2 separate regions of the Homo sapiens genome follow, and region 2 is linked to region 1. A link means that fine-mapping ties the variant in region 1 to the expression of a gene that starts in the linked region. Tissue or cell type: whole blood. Region 1 holds a variant in brackets; the other region holds the start of a gene. All regions are shown on one strand. Distances are from middle to middle.

Region 1 (8,178 bases):
GAACCTGGGAGGTGGAGCTTGCAGTGAGCCGAGATCGTGCCACTGCACTCCAGCCTGGGTGACAGAGTGAGACTCCATCTCAAAAACAAACAAACAAACAAGAATGCTGTGCAGAGCAGGGAGTATGAGGGACAAAACCAGCACTATCTGGCCCTTCTTTCCCCAGCTCTCCCACTCATCCTTGCCACATCTCCTGCTGCTCCTGAGTCCCATCTGTCACCCCAGCCTGGACACTAAGGGGAAAGAGAACCAGGAAGAGTGAGAGCATATGAGAGCACAGTTGCACCAGGTAAAGGAGGAGAGGCCAGGTTCCCACTGCCTGCAAAAGAAGTCCTTTCTGCCTCCCTGGAACATTGTGTGGCTCCATCTGAGCCTGACCTGTCCTTCTGCTCCTGGATGGCTGGGTGCAGGGATCACATTTCCAGCAAGTAACACAAATGGCCCCAGAAACCTTAGCTGTCTTTTCTGTCTGCAATACTTCAGTGAAACAGAAAGGCACCTGGTGCTGACTCGTGAAGTCGCCGTAAACTCCGTTACTATAAAGGGAACACTACCATCATTTGACATTTTTGGAAGTGGGCAGTGTGTGTGTGAACAAGCATGTGATCCACCAGTCCTCAGGGAAGCAGAAACACCCACAGGGCAGGGGACTGCTGTCACCCTCATCTGGTTCACCTGCTCCCCCCACCTCCATGCAGGCTTCCGGAGAGCTTGCGGTAGTTTTAGAATTGAGCTTCCCGCACCTCCCTGTAGCACCCCATTTCACCCCATTCTCTCCCTAGAAGTGGGATGAGACTCCACTACTGAGTAGAGGAGACAGAGAAGCACCATGTATCTTCCTGTGCCAAGGAAGAGTCACACCACCGACCTCAAGGGCAGCTGTCTGCCCACAATGAAGTCGTGGGGTCCCCATGGCTGTGGGGGGTGGGCAACACCTCCCCCAAGCAAGGGTGAGCTAGGTGGTCATTGCCGCCCCTACTAACATAACCCAGACCCAGAGCAGCAATTTCAGATCCTAGGAAACATCTCCCGTGCAGACACACAAACACACGGAGTGAATGCGGCATCCCACAAATGGGCCCTTTATTTCTGAACTGCCACCACTGCACGGATAAGGCCACTTGGGTTGCAGGCACACTGTGGAGTGTCAGGGGACAGAGAGGAGAGGGGCTGCACACCAAGACTGCCCTGTCCTCACGGAGAGGAAAAGCGGCCGCAGAAGAGAATCCCGTTGGTCTTGCTGTGCTGGATGAAGAAAAGGAAGGGGTGGTCGGCGCAGAAGCGGGGGACGAATCTGGCACACCGCATCATCATGATGGCAGCTGTGGCGGCTGCAGCCTCCGTGCCTTCCTCATTGACCTCCACAAAAGACTTGTGCACGACCTTGGACAGAGACAGGTCTGTCTGGGACATTCCAGAGAAGTCTGCCTTGCCCAGCTCGAAGGCATCAGTCATGCCCAGGTTGCGCAGGACACTCTCCATGTCGTAGCTTTCCTCTAGTTTAAACCGCGGGAGGGACACTTCCACCTCCTCTTCATCCATCATGTCCAGCCTCGTCCATTCTACGAACTTCTCGTAAGTGAGTTCTTTCTCCACCTAGAGGGAGACAGTTGAAGACTTTAAGACCCAGGGTGCTGCTGCCCAGCAGGGCCCTGTGCTATGCTGTGGATGCCAGACACCAGTGGCAGCGTGGCTATGGTCAGCAGCGCTCCAGTGTTAAACGGCTGACCGCAAAGTAGGGACAGCAGCCACAGCAGACACCCCCGAGTGGCTCCTTGCTAGCACGCCTCGCTCACAGCTTAGCTGTTACCGTTCTCAAGTCAGTGGTCTCGTCCGGAAGCATGATGATCATATTCAGTTCCTTGCCAACATATGGAAGCACCAAGATTTGGGTAAATATTTCTCCTATATAGGTCTTCTTAAAAGTAGATTGCTTAAACATCATTTGCACAGGTTTCTCCTCATTCTACAAAGAAAACAGATAAACATCAAGTTGAAACAAGACCCCACTGACACATGGGACAAATGTGTCGGAGCTGGCCACTCTCTGCAGGGAGAAACGCAGCTCGGTTTCTCCCCAGCTTCCAGAACACCCGGCAGCGCCTGCTCTGCCATCTTCATTACCTCAACCTCCAGAAACTGGGGTGCCCAGGGCCCAAACCCAACGTGTCTTTCCTCTCATTGATCGCATTCAGTCTCATGGCTTTAAACACAATATCACACCAAATTTACCTCCCGCCTGGGCCTCTGCCCTGTCCTTGGGCCTCCTGCATTTTACTGCCCACCTGCACCTATGTTTGGACATAAAAGAAACTCCCAGCGCCACCTGTAATGCGGCACTCCGTAGATCCTCCAAGTCGGCTCTGTCTACTGCAACTCTGCCCATCTCAGCTGAGGGCAGTGCCACTGTCCAGTGGTCAAAAGCCCTGGAGTGCCCCTGACTCCTGTCTTTCTCTCACACCCTGTGTCTGACTCACTGGCAAATTATATTGGCTCTACCTCGAGAATATAACAAAATCTGACCTGTTCCTTCTGCCTCTGCTGCTACCAGCCTAGCCCTGGAATATTGTGATAATATGATTGTGATTGTTCCCAGCACAGTGGCCAGAGGGGCCCGGTAGAACCTAAGGCAGATCACATTGTTCTTTGGCTGGACACCCTTCCCTGGCTCCCCATTTACTCGGAGCAGGAGCTGAAAGTCCCTAAAAAGCCTGGAATTGTGATAAGAGCTCGTCCCCAGTTCCCTCTCCCTTTGCTTATCTGCTACAGTCACAGAGGCCTCCTCACTGCACTGCCAGCAAACCCAGTTCATCTCATCTCTACGCAGTAAGCTTGTCCTCCAGAACCTGGAGAGTGAACTTCTGCCTCTTTACGGTCTTTGTTCAAAAACCACCTTGGCAGAGAAGCTGTCCTTGATAGATCTTACCTGACCCTACACTCCCACCCCAAACACAGATTCCTATCCCCTCCCTTGGTATGTCTCTGTACCATTTACCACTGTCTAATATGCTCCTATTTTCTTATTTATGCTTGCTGTCTCTCCCCCAAGAAAACATAAGCTTCACCAGGGCAAGCATGCTTTGCTTGTTTTGTGCATGGCTGAAAAATACCTAGCACCATGCCTGATACATAGAAGACACTCAGTCAGGTTAGGCATGGTGGCTCATGCCTGTAATCCCACCATTTTGGGAGGCTGAGGCAGACGGATCACCTGAGGTCAGGAAATCGAGACCAGCCTGGCCAACATGGTGAAACCCCACCTCTACTAAAAATAGAAAAATTAGCTGGGCATGGTGGTGCGCTCCTGTAATCCCAGCTACTCGGGAGGCTGAGGTAGGAGAATCACTTGAACCCGGGAGGCAGAGGTTGCAGTGACCCAAGATTGCACCGCTGCACTCCAGCCTGGGAGACAGACCGAGACTCCATCTCAAAAAAAAAAAAAAAAAGGCACTCAGTCAATCTCTGCTGAATAAATGATAAATGCATAAACGAATTAATGAGCTGGGATGCTAAAAAGGCCAGGCAACATTTACACATCTCACCAGAAAAAACTGCACTGGTCACCAACCCCAGCCAGCCAATGAGAAAGACTGGAGGCCAGGAACCACACCCCATCCAACAATCCCCCTCAGTTCCTGACTCGGAGCTGCTCCTGTGAGTTGAGTAAATACCCTGCAATAGGCACAGTCAAAGACGCCGTATGGTCCCCAGTCTCTGGTGTAGCACATTCTTCTGTGTTAAATGGAATAAATAAAATACACTGCGGCGGCAGCTTTCTGCTTTCACGTGGTAGAGGCTCGCCTGGGCTGGCCCTTAGCCTTTGGCTAGAGCAGTCTCCTGGGCCTCGGCTGCCCCACTCATTTCCTTGGCCAGCAGTAGGCATGTTTCTTCCATAACTGACCAGACAGGAACTATTTTCCGGTTTGTGGCTACATGTACCATCTCCGTCACAACGACTCAGCTGTTGTTACAGGATGAAATAAGTAAGTAAATAAGCATGGGCCAGGCGTGGTGGCTCACGCCTGTAATCCCAGCACTGTGGGAGGCCCGGGCAGGTGGATCACCTGAGGTCAGGAGTTCGAGACCAACCTGACCAACATGGTGAAACCCCGTCTCTACTAAAAATGCAAAAATTAGCCGGGCATAGTGGCACACACCTGTAATCCCAGCTACTCAAGAGGCCACGGCAGGAGAATCACCTGAACCCGGGAGGCGGAGGCTGCAGTGTTCCGAGATGGCACCACTGCACTCCAGCCTGGGCAACAAGAGAGAAACTCTGTCTTGGAAAAAATAAAAAATAAAAAAAAAAAATAAGCATGGCTGTGTTTCAGTAAACCTTTAAAAAAAATTAGGTGGTGGGCTGGCTTTGCTGTAGGCTGAAGTTTGCTGACCCCTGCCTTCAGTAATTCCTCCCTGCACCCCTTCAGGGTCCAAAGCCTCCAATCTTGCAATATAAAAAGATCTAACCTTAGTGACTGAATGATTCACTAAATACACAATTATATAGACAAGTTCCAGTTTATATAGAAGGTAATGAAATTAAAATAAGAATCTGTATCAACTCAAAATCTGTGCCCTTGGAGGTACACCTCTGGCCTCAGGCTGGTACGCTCAATACTGCAGCCCCTTCCTTCACCCTTCTTCACTGCAGAACTCAGAAAGCATGACGGGATTCCACATCTCCCCAAACCCACAAGACCTATAGTTCTGGCCTACACCATATAGAAAGCAGCTTTCCCTTTCTGAAACGCAGAACCACTAAGGGGAAGGTTTAGGCTCCCCTCCCCTCCCTTGTTCCTCCCCCTCCCTGCCACCGG[G/A]ACTGCTGAAGCCAGCTCAGCCATCTTGTGACCATGAGGAAGAAGGCGACGTGCTGAGAATGGTGGAGCCGCCTCCCTGGGATCATCGCCCCAGTGCCAGACCAGCCCAGGTCTCACCTGCCTCCAGACCTCCTAGCAGGGGAGATGAGCTCCTAGGAGATAAACCATGGTGAACCGGGGTTTCTGTTATCTGTAGTCAAAGCCCTTGTACATCTTGTTAATCATTAAATTTTAAAGAGAGAAATTATTTTGCCAGGGGAAAATAGCACAGTTCATTTCAGAATAAAGCTTCAAAGAAAATAATTCTTTCTGAATTGCGAGGAGAACAGACAATGAAAATAAATTTCTTGAAAAACTGAAGGCTCAAGTTCAAGTTAGCCTGGAAGATCTAACTATGGTCAATGATCAAGAATACACTGTAATTAATCTATTCTGTTTACTTTGTCTATGTTCAAAAATTTCTATAGTTAAAGAAAAACAAAACAAGAGACAATAAAGAAGATTCAGTGAGAGGAAGATAAAGGGCCATCAGCAAATGACATCTTCCACGCTGGAGGTGGTTAATCTCAGTGTCTATCTACATGTTTGGTTTGGTTGTTTTAAAACAAAAATCTGTACTTATCCTTACTATCAAGAGAGGACTGAATATCACTCATCGGTTCAGCATTTACTAAGCACCAGCTACGTGTCTGGCACTTGTCAGAGAGTCCTCCCTGCTCAGCCTCAATTCAGCAGGCTGAGTTGTTCCGCTCCTGCAGTGTGGCACGGAGGCCAGCAGGAGGCGCGGTAGCGGGGCTTCCCGGGACGCCGCCAGAAAGAAAGGAGTGGGTAGGTCCTGATGGGAATGAAGCTAGAGAAAAGGAGGAAATGTCCGCTAGAAGATGGCACGCCATATCTGGAGTCTGAGCTTTAAGACCTTGATCGAGCCTGAGGGCTGCAGCTTCAGACTTGCCCTGTAGGTGGCAGGGCGGATGCCAGGCGCCCAGGGACACGAGGCCACCCAATGGATGTCAAGCAGGAGGGGCAGGGACAGAAAGGCCCCACGGCTGCAGACGCGGGAGGCCCCGAGCCGGAGACGCTCGTGTGAACACAGGCGCTGCTCCTGTCACGGCCCCTTACTCGCCTTGCTGACTTTAAACAGTCTCTCCTCGGTGTTCTCCTTGTCAAACTGTTCATCCCAGTTTCCTCTGAAATAGACAGCATTCACCAGAACCAGCCTTGTCAATGGATCCACTGAGCCCGGAGAGAGCAACTCCGCAATTTTACCTGAGCGGAAGAATTCAAGACCGCATTAGATAGGGGCGGCTGCGGATCCCCGACACATCAGGAATCGGCTGGGGCCTTCTCCTTCAGCAGTCAAGTGCACGGATAGAGAGTTCCACTGTCCCCCAAATATAAAGGGATACGTGTCCTTAAAGCAAAACAACAAAATCTTCTGGTACGAAAAACATCATCAATTGAATAAAACACACAAAGTGAACAAATATGCGTTAATTATGCAGGATGAGTTCCTAACACATGAGATAAGAAGCAATCATGGGTGCCTATGACTTAAAGACAAGAACTTAAAGGATTATCAAAAAGGTGGGCAGTCAGAAGATGTTCTTTACAAGCTTAAAGAACAGTTAGGCCAGACACAGTGGCTCACACCTATAATTCCAGCAGTTTGGGAGGCTGAGGTGTGAGGATCACTTGAGGCCAGGAGTTTGAGACCAACCTGGACAACATAGTGAGGCCTTGTCTCTTAAAAAAAAAATTTATTAAAATTAGCTGGGCATGGTGGTGCTACCTGTAGTCCCAATTACTTGGGAGACTGAAGCAGGAGGACCGCTTGAGCACAAGAATTGATGCTGTAATCCCAGCACTTTGGGAGGCCAAGGCGGGTGGATCACGAGGTCAAGAGATTGAGATCATCCTGGCCAACATGGTGAAAACCTGTCTCTACTAAAAAATACAAAAATTAGCAGGGCATGGTGGCACGTGCCTGTGATCCCAACTACTTGGGAGGTTGAGATAGGAGAATCACTTGAACCTGGGAGGCAGAGGTTGCAATGAGCCAAGATTGCACCATTGCACTCCAGCCTGGGCAATAAGAGCAAAACTCCATCTCAAAGAAAAAAAAAGAAAATTGAGGCTGCAGTGAATTGTGATTGTGTCACTGCATTCCAGCCTAGGTGACAGAGGGAGACCTTGTCTCAAAAAAAAAAAAAAAAAAAGTTTAAATTAAGAACCACAGATAGACCAGGGCGTGACCCAGTGTCCCACAGCAATGCATGGCAACTGTAGACTGTGCTACCCAAGAGGGAGGCAGCTTGAGATCCACACTGCGAATTTTTTATGTTACTTGTGAAAGGAAAAACTATATTAACATTAACACACTAACCCCCTCCTCAAAATTAAAACGTGGATTGATCCAGAAGAGGTATACCAAACACTGAAAGGCATCACGGGTACACCAAGGAAACAGGGAGAAATCAGAGAGAACAGAACACATTGAGCATTTCCAAAATGTCAAATAATGGCAACTGATTTCAGAAGCAGATTTTTTAAGTTTGCAGTTATTCAGAGAAAAAAAAATCATTCCTGTTTACAATTGACAGTCTTGTGAAGGAACTGACAATAAAATGGATTAAGAGGTTATTACAAAAGTAGAATAACAATACATTTTCACCTTCTGTCTTTTCAGCTACCCAGGTGTTTATGTGTTTTCTGGACTTCTCTACGGCGCTGATAAAGTCAAGCTCCTCCATCTCTGCTTGGTAGAATTTTTGGCAGGAATCTCTAAAAGACTAGGATAGACAGAGTGACATAACTGCCTGGCTACAAAAATGATGAACACCAACGGCCTACTTCTTCATTGCACCAAGTCAGAAAATCTATAATTTTATGATTGACATACATAATTTACAAATAAATATGAGGACTTAACCTAAACTACAACTTCCTAGCTTTAGCTATATTTAATCCTAGCTTAAAAACTAAGTCAAGGTCAGGTACTGTGGCTTACACTTGTAATCCCAGCACTTTGGGGGGCCGAGGCGGGTGGATCGTGTGAGCTCAGGAGTTCGAGACCAGCCTGGCCAACATGGCGAAAGCCCGTCTCTACTAAAAATACAAAAATTAGCCATGTATGGTGGCATGCACCTGTAATCCCAGCTACTTGGGAGGCTGAGGCAGGAGAATCACTTGAACCCAGAAGGCGGAGGTTGCAGTAAGCCGAGATCAGGCCACCACACTCCAGCCTGGGCGACAGAGCGAGATTCTGTCTCAAAAAAAAAAAAACAAAAAAAAAAAAGCAAAAAACACTAAGTTGAATCAGTCTCTGAATATCAAACGAACTTCACCAACTGCTGGATCCTTT
Region 2 (8,178 bases), 36 kb after region 1:
AGAGAGCTAATTAGGGGGCAGAAATCATAGACTATACTGAACAAGTGGATTTTGAGAGAGAAGGGCAGAGTTACAGTTCCAGATGGTTTGTATTTATTCTAACTCAGAGAACTGGGTACATGAAAGAGTATATAGGGGGAGGAGGATCAGATTTAGGGGTCAGATAATCAGTTTGAGTCAAAAGGGGCTTAGAGTGCTGGTGAACATTTAGGTGAAGATGTCCAGAGGACAGGTAGAAATTACGACAAAGGTAAGAGCTATCGATGCTAAATGAAGCTGGGGGAGAAACTCCTTGATCCAGCAACAAACATTTTAAAAGACAGCTGGAAAAGGAGCACATGGCAAAGAGGACAGAGAAGGAGAAGACAGAAGAAACAGAGAACCAGGTCAGCATCCGCTGCTGGTGCTGAGAGGAAGAGGAGAGTCAGAATTGAAAAGGGCATTTCTCATTCCCAAGTCGTTAGTTACCAAGGGACGATAGATGGGAGGAGCAAAAACTGAGGCAGATCCAGGCCTGGAGACACATGGAGAGAGTTGTCTTAGAATACTCTTTCAAGAAACTTATCTGGGATGAATGAGAAGACGAACTGGAGCTGGAGGTGGGACTGTGTCTTTTGAGATAGGAGCCTTGGCTGTGACCCATACAATGTGTAAGGAGAGGCATCACACCTCTTCCACCCCTACAAGTTGATACTCTCATATTTAAAATCTGAGTTAAGGCCAGGTGCGGTGGCTCATGCCTGTAATCCCAGCATTTTTGGAGGCCGAGGCAGGCGGATCACTTGCAGTCAGGAGTTTGAGACCAGCCTGGTCAACATGATGAAACCCTGTCTCCACTAAAAATACAAAAAAAAGTTAGCCAGGCATGGTGGTGTGTGCCTGTAATCCCAGCTACTCAGGAGGCTGAGGCAGGAGAATTGTTTGAACCTGGGAGGTAGAGGTTGTAGTGAGCCAAGATCACACCACTGCACTCCAGCCCAGGTGACAGAGTGAGACTCCGTTTCAATAAATAATAATAATTAATTAATTAGCCAGGCGTGGTGGCAGGCACCTGTAATCCCAGCTAGTTGGGAGGCTGAGGCAGGAGAATCGCTTTAACCCGGGAAGCTGAGGTTGCAGTGAGCCAAGATTGCGCCATTGCATTCCAGCCTGGGTGTCACAGCGAGACTCCATCTCAAAAATAAATAAATTAATAAATTAAAATAAAATCTGAGTTAAATTTAAATAATTGTGTTGTTCTGGAGATTTTTTAAAAAATATCATCACTGGTCATAAGAATTTGAGGAATAGCTAAATAACAAAACAGAGGTTTCTCTCTCTGTCTCTCTTCCTTTTTCCATAACAAGAGAAGCTCATCTTCTTATCTGGTCTGGAATCACTTGGGTGACATTTCAAAATGCAAATTAAGAGCCAGGTGGGCAGGTCCCCAATGCGTTGGGATGGGCCGCAGCTGACTGGGCAGCCTCCCTTGAGCTCCCAGGACTTTGCCGAAGGGAGTGGCGTCCATTTGCATGAGGAGCTCAGGAAAACTGCTCCTCAGGTGCCGAGTTAGAGACACCTAGTGAGCTTCACCAGAGTAGTTTTGACCAGGGATACAACAAAGCTCCTAAAACTGAAAAAGCACGAAAACAAAAATGGTTGTGAACAGGGCTCAGCGATGACGAGGCTACATTCAGCCAGTGTGTGTCTGGTGCCATGGTAGACACACCCCTGGGATCCTGCCGCCCTGGCACAGGGGGTGCTCTGGGAGACAGAGGCTGGAATTGGACTGCATTGCAGCCAGGTGGCCTTGGAGACCCAGAAGGGTGCCTCCTTGGGCAAACTTAATGTTCCCCCTAAAGAGATCCCTTTGAAGATCCGCATGGCTTTCACACAAAGGGCGTGGGGTTTAGTTCCAAAACGTAGGCTTGGGTATTATAGAATAAAAGCAAAAGAGGGCACAAGATGTGCATTTTCATTATGTTTACTTAGTGAAGGGTGGGCAGACATTTTCATTATTTTTGGGTTTTTTGTTTGTTTGTTTTTGAGACAGAGTCTTGCTCTGTAGCCCAGGCTGGAGTGCAGTGGCAAGATCTTAGCTCACTGCAACCTCCGCCTCCTGGGTTCAAGTGATTCTCCTGTGTCAGCCTCCTGAGTAGCTGCGATTACAGGCACCCATCACCACGCCTGGCTAATTTTTGTATTTTTAATAGAGACGGGGTCTCACCATGTTGGCCAGGCTGGTATCAAACTCCTGATCTCAGGTGATCCACCTGCCTCAGCCTCCCAAAGTGCTGGGATTACAGGCATGAGCCACCGCGCCCGGCCCATTTTCATTATTTTTAAACAAAGGCGAGCAATTCACTTTCTGGGTGCCCACCTGAAGTAGAGAATCCCAACCCCTTACCATGAAAACAGATAATCTGTTCACTGAGCCCCAAGGACAAAGCAGCCAGGGTCGACTGAGGGGCTACTGCAGCCTTCCTCTCTGACTCCTCCCACCTAACCATTCCCTCAATACCTCAATACACACACTCCTTTCTTTCCCAAGTCTATTGCCTCTTCCAAAAGCAATGTAAGATCCGCCCCAGAACAGTGGGGAGTTCTTATCCTTTCCGTTACCTAAGCAACCTGAGGGCAAAGACCTTTAGATCACCGGCAGTGCTGTTCTTTGGGTAACTTGATCTTTGCTTATCAGCTTTAATAACTTTATTATACGAAATACCCAGCCTTGATGAAGTATCGATGACTCACTAACTGTGGTGTAACTAATTGTTTCATTCATTCTACAAACTTTTTTTTTTTTTTTTGAGACAGAGTCTCACTCTGTTGCACAGGCTGGAGTGCAGTGGCGCGATCTCAGCTTACTGCAACTTCCACCTCCTAGGTTTGAGCGATTCTCCTGCCTCAGCCTCCTGAGTAGCTGGGATTACAGGCGCGTGCCACCACACCCGGCTATTTTTTGTATTTTTAGTAGAGACGAGGTTTCACCATGTTGGTCAGGCTGGTCTCAAACTCCTGACCTCGTGATCTGCCCACCTTGGCCTCACAAAGTGCTGGGATTACCGGCATGAGCCACCGCGCCTGGCCTCATTCTACAAACTTTTATTCTGCACTCACTATAGGCTGGGAGCTACACTAGGGCCTGGGGACATGAAGACAGGCGACACGGTCCCTGGGCTCAAGATGCCAGACAGATGTGCAAACAAGTGAAATCTGATGTGATATGTGCTTTAGTGGTGCCAAGGATAAAAGGATAAGTGTTAAGAAAAAGTAGCAACAATATGTCTGACTGGGAGAATCAAGAAAGGTGTCATAGAGTCCCTAACACTTGAGCTGAGAATGAGAAAGAGCATGAGCTGGCCAGGTGACACACAGAGCATATTCCAACCTAGGAGACTGGGAAATGGGCCAAAATATATACGTTTGAGGAAACAAATAGCTTACTATATAATTAAATATGAGGCAGTTTAGACTGGGCCCTTATGGATAAGTCACACCCATAAATTTTATTTCATCTTACAGGCAGTGGAGAGCCTCTGGAGGATTCTGAGCTTCGTGGTCTCATCATCAGAGTTATGTATGGCAACCATCCCAACCTTTTTGGCACCAGGGAGGGGTTTTGTGGAAAACTATTTTTCCTTGGACAGCAGAGGATGGTTTCGGGATGATTCAAGCACATGACACTTCTTGTGCACTTTATTTTCAGTGGGAGCCCTGAGCTTGTTTTCCTGCAACTATCTGGCCCCATGTGGGGGTGATGAAGACAACGGCAGATTATCAGGCATTAGATTCTCATAAGGAGCGCACATCCTAGATCCCTTATGTGTGCAGTTCACAGTAGGGTTTGTGCTCCTATAAGAATCTAATGCTGCCTGATCTGATAGGAGGCAGAGCTCTGGTGGTAATGCAAGCAATGGGGAGCAGCTGCACATACAGATAAAGCTTCACTAGCTCACCCACTGGTGGCTCACCTCTTGCTGTGTGTCCTGGTTCCTAACAGGCTACAGACCAGTCAGGTCTGTGGCCCGGGGGTTGGGAACTCCTGGTGTATGGAAGAGACTACTCTGCAGCAATGTGGACAAATAGGATGAGGGTGAGCTGTCAGGGGAGACAGGCACACATGGCAGAGCTATTTAAAAAGGAGGATAGATGACCAGGCACAGTGGCTCATGCCAGTAATCCCAGCACTTTGGGAGGCAGAGGCAGGCGGATCACGAGGTCAGCAGTTCAAGACCAGCCTGGCCAACATGGCAAAACCTCATCTCTGCTAAAAATACAAAAATTAGCTGGGCGTGGTGACATGCGCCTGTAATCCCAGCTACTCAGGAGGCTGAGGCAGGAGAATCACTTGAACCCGGGAGGCAAAGATTGCAGTGAGCCGAGATCGTGCCATTGCACTCTAGCCTGGGCAACACAGCAAGACTCTGACTGGAAAAAAAAAAAAAAAAAAAGGAGGATAGACAGGGCTTGGGGATTGGTGGATGGGTAGATAAGGAAGGAGGAGTCTAGCATGACTCTCAGACTACTGACTTGGACCAGCAGGGGAATGGCTGTGACAATAAATAAGATTGGGAAAACAAGAAGGTGAGCAAATTTAGAGGAGAAAATGAATTTCATTTTTGGCATGGTGTGGAAGGCTCGGGAGAGAGGTCTAGGCACCAGATGTCAACGTGAGGTGAAATGGATATAGCTGAAGTCAAGGGTGTGGTGAGGTTTTGCAGGGAGAGCAGGGACCTCCAGCAAGGCCAGTGCATAAGGGAGAATAGAGAAAAAAAGAACCAGAAAAAGACAAGGAGAGGCCAGAGAGGTGTGGAAAGAACCAGGGAAGACAGTTATTCACAACAAACAAAAGAGGGCAGAGTTTTAGAGAAGGAACTGAGCAGTTTGGGGCTCCAGGTGGGGCAGGAGTGGGTGGCCACGGTTGAGGGGCAGTGGCCTTCAAATTGGTCTGGGTAGGTTCTAATGGGTCAGATTGGTCAGTCCTTTCCAGGACACTGAAGGCTGCAGAGGTGTGACTGGATGCTGGTGGAGGGATGCATGGCGGGGAAGCTGAGTCAGATCCTGAAATCCTCCAAGCATGCGCCTGAAATGACCAAGGGAAATGAAGGCGGAGGCTGCTGTCGCCTGGTGGCCTGGGAAGGGCCAAGAGCCAGGGAGCTGGAGGGAGGAGAGAACGTGCGACCTCAGCACGGAGCACTGTAGGGGAGGCGGGGCTGGAGGGAGATGGCGCCGCGCTCCCGGATGAACAGAGAAAGCGACAGGGTGAGTCGCAGGGCACAGTGTGGGATGAGTCACCGACAGCAAGGCATGGACTCCGGGAAGAAGGGGAGACGAGCCGGGAAAGACTTGCATCGGGGATGTGAGCTGAGCTGCACCCAGACAAAAGCGGCTCGGGGCTCCTGAAAGCAGCAGGCACCGCCGGTCCTGCCAAGGGGCTACTTCCTGCGCGGAGTAGGAGAGTAGGAGACCCCAGGCCAGTCCCAATCCCCGGCCCGTCCGGGATGAGGGGGGCTGCGGGAGCTGCGGGGGCCTCCTCCAGGGAGGACGGTTGCAGGGTCCCTCGGCCGCCGCCCACTCCCGGGGGCGTTCCTTCCTCCCAGCTGCGCCCGGAGCGCCTGCTGCCTGGCGAGAGCCCGCCCCTCTGCAACCAGCCCGCTGCAGCGGAGGGCGCCTGGGTGCCCTCGGCCGAGCCAGCAGCCCACGGTCGGCGCCGCACTGTCCCCTGGTGGCGGAGCGCTCCCGCGACCCGGCTCGCCACGCCTGGGAGGGGTCCAGGAGGACGCGGCTGGGACCTGGGGGCTCTCAGGGTGGGGCCTTGGGGGATGAGGCTGGGGCCCGCGGGAAACCGGGCTGGGGCGAGGAGGCTCGCAGGACTTCCTGCCACAGAATGTTTCGATGCTTTTTTTAATTCTGCAAATGTAAGCCTTTCCACTTTAAGTCCAAGCTCAGCGCAGAGGACTGTTCTATAATACATACAATTTAGTTTAAAAATGTTGCAAATGTTAACATGTGTCACAAACTCAAGCAATCCAGTATTATAGAAAGCAAAGAATGAAATGTGCTGCTTCTTTCTCCCCCAGACGCCCTTGCATACATTAAGATATGTATATATGGAAATGTTACCGGGAGTCCCGGTTATCCCAAAAAGGGTTGTTTCCTGTTGCGTGGTGAGGCCAATGCACGAAACCGAAAGGGAGTGTGTCAAGCAGTGCAGGCTGTATTCAATGGCTATGGAATTGGAAGATCTGAAATCAACTTAGCTTGTGAGAGCTGGGAAGTTTCAGAGGTAGGGTGTCTTTAATGAAGGGGCTGGGCATTAAGAGCACGGGGGGGAATATTCGTGCTTTCCTTGGGAAAGAACGGAGATTTTTCCCGGAATCAAGAAACCCCTTTTTTTCTGTCCCTTCTTGGTCTCTTCCAGTCGTTGTCATGGCGACATGTTGTTTAGCATGAGAACAGGATGATGATAAAGCCAGAGGCTCTTCAGAGGCGCCATCTTGGATTTCGCCAGCTTCAGCTGGTTTCGTCCTAAGAAGGAACTTCGAAACACAGGCATTCTTTTTCCTGAAAATAAGCAGAGTTACAGCTGAGTAGGAATTTAGCTCTGTCCCATATGCTATCGCATTGGGCAGCAAAAGCAGGGTGGGGTCCAGCGAAATCAGCAGGCACTGCAATGAGTAACATACCCAGCCACGTTTATGCAGCATTTTTACGAAAATGAAACCATACTACCTGTAAAGGAAGATATGCTAACAAACAACAAAACTGGCAGGAACCAAGATTCCTACTGACACTACCCTTAGTTTTAATTTTCCCTGACAACAAATGAGGTTAACAGAGCATAATTATCTACCGTGACCCCTTCAAAAAGACAGGCTGTATACATTTGCACTAAGAGAAGAAATCGTGTAATGTCAGCAAATTTCCCCCACTTAAAGCTTCTCTATTTAAAAAGCTTCACGCACACATGCACGCATATGTCTTCAAGATGACCACAATTTATTTTGCAGTCATTCTTTGCACCAGTTCCCAATTTTTCCCACTAGCTTGCAAGCTCCGTGACTCGAGGAGACCGGGGGATCAGAGTTTGTTTTTGCGGAGAAGTGAGTCCTTTATGCCCCAAATAGTGACTGACATAGAGAAGGTACTCAGTAAACACTTTTTAAAGGAATGCCTGCCTGACTGAAGCTTAATGATGTGAGGCTTCTAGTGGGATACCCTACCTTGTTTTAACCTGAAGTGACTCTTCCTTAGCTAAGAGAGCCAGACGGACTCCATCGTGACTCCTTCACTCGCAGCCCCTTACCCACCCCCTTCCTCAAGGACTTAACTTGTGCAAGCTGACTCCCAGCACATCAAGAATGCAATTAACTGATAAGATACTGTGGCAAGCTATATCCGCAGTTCCCAGGAATTCGCCCGGTTAATAGCACCCAGAGCCCCTGCGTTTGTGTCCGGTTGATAACGCCCAAAGCCCGGCGTCCATCACCTTAGGATAGACTTAAAGCCTCTGCACCTGGAACTGTTTACTTTCCTGTAACCGTTTATCCTTTTAACTTTTTGCCTACTTTACTTCTGTAAGATTGTTTCAACTAGACTCCCCCTCTCCCCTGTCTAAACCAAAGTATAAAAGAAAATCTAGCTCCTTCTTCGGGGCCAAGAGAATTTCGAGCGCTAGCTGTCTCTCGGCTGCCGGCTAATAAAGGACTCCTGAATTCGTCTCAGAGTGTGGCGTTTCTCTGTAACTCGCTCGGTTACAACACTAGGTTAATCTTTTTCCTTTAACTGTTTGTTTAAAATATATTATGTTTAAGACCTTCTAACTGGTCAGCCTCCAAGATAGTATTGTGCTGGGCTTGCTTTATTCTGGTTTGGTTTCCATGATCCCAGTTCATGTGTTACCTGCTTCTCTTTTGAATTCACAATGATACACAACTTTTAATTTGTTAGAACACAAACATAAGGAATTTTTTTTTCCATTTTAATGTGAGATATGACAGAGGCAAATTGTTTCTTAAAGACATAAAATAATTAAAATAATTACATAAATTGTAATAAAATAATTATTACAATGTTCTATCTTTGGCATTAAGGCATAGAACAATTTTTTAATCCTAAACTAGGCTGGGCATGGTGGCTCACTCCTGTAATCCCAGCACTTTGGGAGGCTGAGGCTGGTGGATCACTTGAGGCCAG

Evidence for each region. PIP is the estimated chance that this variant, and not a neighbour inherited with it, causes the effect.
Region 2: it holds the start of LINC01011, and the variant in region 1 is fine-mapped to the expression of LINC01011 in whole blood (TOPMed, PIP above 0.99).

Annotation. Positions count from the first base shown.
Region 1 is chr6:2,947,104-2,955,281 of GRCh38, forward strand. SERPINB6 (serpin family B member 6) reads right to left here. Exons shown (of 7, transcript NM_004568.6): 4 at 7,489-7,606; 5 at 5,941-6,083; 6 at 1,811-1,966; 7 at 1,056-1,596. The coding sequence ends at 1,195. Among named protein-coding and RNA genes, the nearest start is that of SERPINB6, 20 kb to the right of the region's middle. The variant G/A (reference allele first, on the strand shown) is at 4,818.
Region 2 is chr6:2,983,466-2,991,643 of GRCh38, forward strand. LINC01011 (long intergenic non-protein coding RNA 1011) reads left to right here and starts at 4,502. Exons shown (of 3, transcript NR_026856.1): 1 at 4,502-4,566; 2 at 6,063-6,268; 3 at 6,404-7,706. NQO2-AS1 (NQO2 antisense RNA 1) reads right to left here. Exons shown (of 2, transcript NR_186367.1): 2 at 5,871-6,546. RefSeq lists enhancers at 4,444-5,253, 5,254-6,063, 6,064-6,873, 6,437-6,596, 6,874-7,681 and a silencer at 5,447-5,866.